2 separate regions of the Homo sapiens genome follow, and region 1 is linked to region 2. The links come from fine-mapping of genetic effects on gene expression. Tissue or cell type: whole blood. Region 2 holds a variant in brackets; the other region holds the start of a gene. All regions are shown on one strand. Distances are from middle to middle.

What was found. PIP is the estimated chance that this variant, and not a neighbour inherited with it, causes the effect.
Region 1: it holds the start of AP3S1, and the variant in region 2 is fine-mapped to the expression of AP3S1 in whole blood (TOPMed, PIP above 0.99).

What each region holds. Positions count from the first base shown.
Region 1 is chr5:115,840,421-115,843,067 of GRCh38, forward strand. It overlaps AP3S1 (adaptor related protein complex 3 subunit sigma 1), which reads left to right and starts at 1,515. Exons shown (of 6, transcript NM_001284.4): 1 at 1,515-1,686. The coding sequence starts at 1,618. It overlaps ATG12 (autophagy related 12), which reads right to left and starts at 1,145. Exons shown (of 4, transcript NM_004707.4): 1 at 970-1,145. The coding sequence starts at 1,132. RefSeq lists enhancers at 8-508, 512-1,413, 802-1,101, 1,112-1,161, 2,152-2,361 and silencers at 1,392-1,771, 1,872-2,061.
Region 2 is chr5:115,896,805-115,899,652 of GRCh38, forward strand. All of the region lies in intron 4 of AP3S1 (adaptor related protein complex 3 subunit sigma 1), which reads left to right. Among named protein-coding and RNA genes, the nearest start is that of AP3S1, 56 kb to the left of the region's middle. The variant C/T (reference allele first, on the strand shown) is at 1,204.

The DNA.
Region 1 (2,647 bases), 56 kb before region 2:
CCGAGTAGCTGGGATTACAGGCGCGCGCCACCACACCCATCTAACTTTTATATTTTTAGTAGAGATGGAGTCTTACCATGTTGGCCAGGCTGGTCTCGAACTCTTGACCTCAGGTGATCCACCCGCCTCAGCCTACCAAAGTGCTGGGATTACAGGAGTGAGCCACCGCGCCCGGCCAGAGACCACTGTCATCTTAAGACAGAACGGGGAAAACGTCTAAGGACGAAATCAGCCTCTCTGAATCGAGGATGCTTATATGCTGCTTTTCCCATAGGCAACTCTAACTCTAAACAGAGTGCTTTAGAACACGTAATTTTAGCAATCTCTTTTACAAAGGGAAACATTCTCAAGCAATAAAGGGTTGAGGATAGCTGACTCAAGCAATGAAATAACTCACAAAGGTTCCAAAATGTGTTTCTTAAAAAGGTAACATCTATGCCTTTAGCTTTCCCTTAGCAGTCTTCATTCTGCATAAGAATTTGGTTTTTGGTTTAAGGAGTGAATTCACAACCAACTGGGAGGGGGAAAAAAGCAAAAGCGAGTTAAGTTGGAAGGCATGAATTCTAATCCAGGCTTTGCCAATGACCACCCCTACCACCATAAAACATTACTCAAATAATTAGCTCCTGTGTTAAGTACCTGGAATTACCGAGACCCCCCTCCCCCCGCCCCACTCAGCTCCCTCCCTCCTTCAAAGAGCTCGCAGTCTGGCCAACTCAAAAAAATACAGTATAAAAATAAGTGTGGCAGCCAAGTATCAGGCCCTACACCGATAGACAGAGATGGTATTTTAACACTCAACTTAAAGGCCTTAAAAATCAAAAAGTACACTTCTTTTCTTCTGATGACTGGTCAAAATGCAGGTCTAGGACAGGCGCTCCTCTAAATTTTGCTTCTTTACTGGCCGCCACCCCTACTCGGATGCAATCTGAACCTCCCGCCTCTCTGCCCGGAAATAAATTCAGTTACTTTTTTTCTTGGTGTCGCCAGCAGGTTCCTCTGTTCCCGGGGAAACTGCAGCGGAAGACGGGGGCTCCGGGGTGGTTGTTTCTGGGGAGACATCCGTAAGTCCTTCCCCTCCAGCAGCAATTGAAGTAGGAAGCTGCAACACAGACTGCGGCTCCTCCGCCATCTTGCTTGGAGACACTCGAGAGCGGAAGTAGCGACTGAGCGCGTGCAGTGGGCGTGCTTTTCTCCAGGGAGCGTCGCAAAGGAGGCGCCGGAGTAGGGGGACGCAATTACACAGTGAAACTTGGTGTTCCCGGCTAGTCATTCAAATCGAAGCTGTCGCAGACCTCTGAACGTTAGTAACGCAACATGTGTTTCTCCGCGACTACAGACCTCGGGAGAGGAGCGGTGGGCAACGTGTCTGTGCTCGGTCGAATGCGCACACTCCAGTTAGGCCGCTGGCTCGGACCTAGAAATGTTTCCGCTTTCCTTAGTGCCTGCCCCGCCCAGGCCCCGCCCCTTGGGCCCCGCCCGACGGCTCGGGAGCGCGCGCGGTCGCGTGCGGGAGGGGGCGGGTGGGGAAGGATCGCAGGCGAGATTACGAGGCGAGGCTCGCGCGCCCGCCCCCGCCCTGGCCCCCAGTGCCCACCCGGTCGGCCCGGCACAGCCATGATCAAGGCGATCCTAATCTTCAACAACCACGGGAAGCCGCGGCTCTCCAAGTTCTACCAGCCCTACGTGAGTATCCAGCCGCCGCTGATCCGGGCGAGGGGGAGTCGTTGGCGACGGGCAGCGCCCAGCGCGGCTTTCTCAGAGCGACCCCCTCCGGCGCGCTGCGGCCCTTGTCCCGTCCCGGCCGCCTGGCGCTCGCCAGCTGTCAGCCTCCTGGTGGGTGTGGACAGGGTGCCCACCTCCCTGCCGCGCGGTCAGCCACCGACGTGGCTTTGCCCGGGCGGTTCCTCCGCCCGTCGGTGGGCTGCATGCTTTCCTGGCTGCGCGGGCGAGGCCCTGGAGACTTCCCGGGGCCCGGCCCTCGCCGATCGGGCAGCCGCAGCCCAGCCGCGCCGCGGAGCCCTGCGCCCAGTCCCCAAGAGCCCACCCCGCGCGGCTGCCTTCCTGCCGCCCGCGGCTGCAGTTAGCCCGGGAGGAGGAAGACGGCGTGGAACTCGTTCTTCTCGCCCCCCTCCGCCGACTCCCATCCTTTCCAGGTGGACTTCTTTCTGTTCTTTGGACAGATGGGCTACCGTTTTTCACTGTGGTCCTCTCATAGCACAGGAACTTTGGCTTCCTGCGTTTGATAACTGCACGTTCTGTACAGTCTCTCTTCTGCATGTTTCGATACGTGACAGACTGCCCAGTGTGACTTTCAGGTGTCTCCTTATTGAAAAGGAAGATATGTGAGGACCTAATATTTTTATCAGGCTTTTTACCAGCTGGCTGCAAATTATTTACCCTCGAAGTAACCGGCGACGTTTGTAGTTGACTGATTGGAGCTGTGGTTCTATACCTAAAAGTTATGATTTCAGCTTCTGGTTTGGCATTTTTCCACGTATGGGAATTTGCCCTCATTTATAGTTTTTTTCTATTTATGAAGAATAGTAGCATTTGTAGAACTTCTCTTTTAACGTGTAAATACTGTTTAGTATGGACAAGTGCAGGAGGCATTAAGGTAGTAGAGATAAGTGATTTGTTGATGATC
Region 2 (2,848 bases):
GTACATGATTAAAATTTTTAGAAAGCTGTGTTTTAAAATGACTGCTGAGAGGTCATCATTAGCTTATGTAAATACATTTACCATCTTTTAAGAAAATTGAGGACTCTCTTGTGAAATGTGATGGTAAGAGTAAGGTTCTTATATTTTTTTTACTAGAGAAAGAGAATAAAAGTTTTTAAGGAAATTAAGCTGTACTCATCTGCAACTTCCATACATGACACAAAATGTTTTTAAAACTTCTATTTCTCATTAGTATGCATTCATTTTAGAAAAATCAGAAAATACAGAGAGAAAAATATGTGAAAATCATCCCTATCCCAGAGATTGCCTAGTGTTAACATTTTAGAATATGTATAGTACTTGATTTTACATCTTTAAAACAAATAATCTTTAAACAAATACATCTTTAAAACAATAAAGATGGGATCATACAATATGTATTTTGTGTTAGCCTGTTCATTTTACACAACACTATATCACTATTTTAGAACCTGCCAAAATTAGCTGTCTCTCTTTTCTCTGGGCTAAGATCTTGTTTTATTTTTTCAAGGCAAGGAGACAAAAGTTTTAGGATACCAAAAGACAGAGATCAAATAAGTGTTTCCTTTCTATTCGCCAAGACAATGCTAACTTTGCTTTCAGCCCTTTGATGAAAATTATTTTCAACTTAAAAATATAGATATATTTTTTTAAATTTCAACTTTTAAGCAGCTCTGGACCTTCCAGCAGTAGGGATCTTCTGACTGGCTCAGCTCACATTTTCTTTTTTTTTTCTGAGATGGAGTCTCGCTCTGTCACCCAGGCTGGAGTGTAGTGGCGATCTCGGCTTAATGCAAGCTCCACCTCCCAGGTTCACTCCATTCTCCTGCCTCAGCCTCCCGAGTAGCTGGGACTACAGGCACCCGCCACCACGCCTGGCTAATTTTTTTGTATTTTTTTAGTAGAGATGGTATTTCACGGTGTTAGCCAGGATGGTCTCGATCTCCTGACCTCGTGATCTGCCTGCCTCGGCCTCCCAAAGTGCTGGGATTGCAGGTGTGAGCCACCACGCCCGGCCACAGCTCACATTTTCTTAAAGGCAAGACATAGGGAGGTTTGCACACAACCCTCAGACTGCTTCTGGGTCACAACTGAGTAGATGAAAAGAGAAAGTTGTAGAGAATATCCCTTTTGTTATCAGTCAGGATGAGCTAATTTATGCTG[C/T]AGTAGCGAACATGGAAATGTTAGCCACTTAAAACAAAAAAGGGTTATTTCCCATTCACGCAGTATGTTTATCATATTCCACATGCTGTCATTTTGGGATCCATGGTAACAAAGCTGCCACTATCCAGAACATTGTTAGTTTCTATGTCAGAGAGAAAAAAAGTTTTCATTGGGTAAATTTATCTGCTTTTCAGGGTATCACAGATGATAATTGTACCAAGTATTTTGCCACTACAAACATGGATCAGTAACTTTCCAGCCTCCAATGTAACAGTTTCTATGTGGCCAGCTGCCCAACCTGTAAACCACTGTCACACATTTTCTTTTATTGTGGTTGTTACTAGTTTCTTTTTATAAATCTTTACATGCTAATAACTGTATCAATCACATAGGCTAGTGTAGTCACCCTGAAGTAGTGGGACAGACCCACCCCTACTCACAATTGGTTTGGATGTAGAGACTAACAATGTCACAGGTGCCCCAAGAGGATAGGAAAAGATTTATTACTCACATAATGAGGCTTTCTGGAGAAAACAGAGAACAACACGGGGCTTGGGTTTTATGGTGGTTTGGTGGTGGGGATGGGGTGTGAGGATTTCTGCATGTGGGCCAGGTCTTAGGTAGTCTGAACTTTCCACTAGTGTAAAGGAAGGAGCATCCAGACCTTCTTAACAGCTTGCCCAGATATGGGGCAGAAGAGGAATGGGGACTAGTAGAACTTGAAGGCTGTGAGCAGACACACATCAAAAATGGAGTCAGACCCTTTATCACATACAGCTAAGGTATGCTGTGGTTATTACCCCTAAAATCCTAAAATATGAATCATTCAGTTTGTTTCTTACTTACACTATATGTTTATTGTGGATTTGCTGGGGGAGCTGCTGAGTTATCTGCCCATTTCCTGTATAGTGTGGCTCCAATTGGGTGGCCCCGTGTTGTTGCCCATATTGGAAGAAAGCATCAAAATCCAGGGCAAAATGAGAGAGCTAAAGATTCTGTGCAGGGCTTGGTTTGGAGGATGTATGACTTTGAGAATGACAGCTGTTAATATACTCTATTCTCCTCTCTGCATTCCCCCACTTGCCTCCACAAGTGATTAGGGTAGAGATCTGATCGGAGGCCTGTGTCTTTCATACCCTTGAGGCTGAGAGAATAAAGACTTAAGAGCAGAGTGCTTTCTTCCAACCTGGTCCCTCTTGAGGATTTGGACAGCCTGGTCTTTAACCACAGGCACAGAACGAGAGACTCCTTTTACTTTCACCAAATAAAGGAGCTACTAGCCATTAATAACATCTTGGAAGCCAGCCCTGAGCACAGTAAGCCAATAGAAAGAAAGCACTGCCATCTGAACAAGAGAGATTAACAGATTGAACAATCAGAAATTACGCTCCATGGAAAAGAACTACTGGAGAAGATAGAGTAACACTTGAAATTTTATAATTTTAAAATTTATTTATTTTGGTATGGCTGGGGTCTTGCTGTGTTGCCCAGGCTGGTCTTGAACTCCTGACCTCAAGTGATCCTCCTGCCTTGGCCTCCCAAAGCATTGAGATTACAGGTGTGAGCCACCACCTGGCCTCACTTGAAATTTTAAAATGATTTTAAAAGTACTTAAGATTTGGAAAAGTCTTCTTGGGCTTGAAAA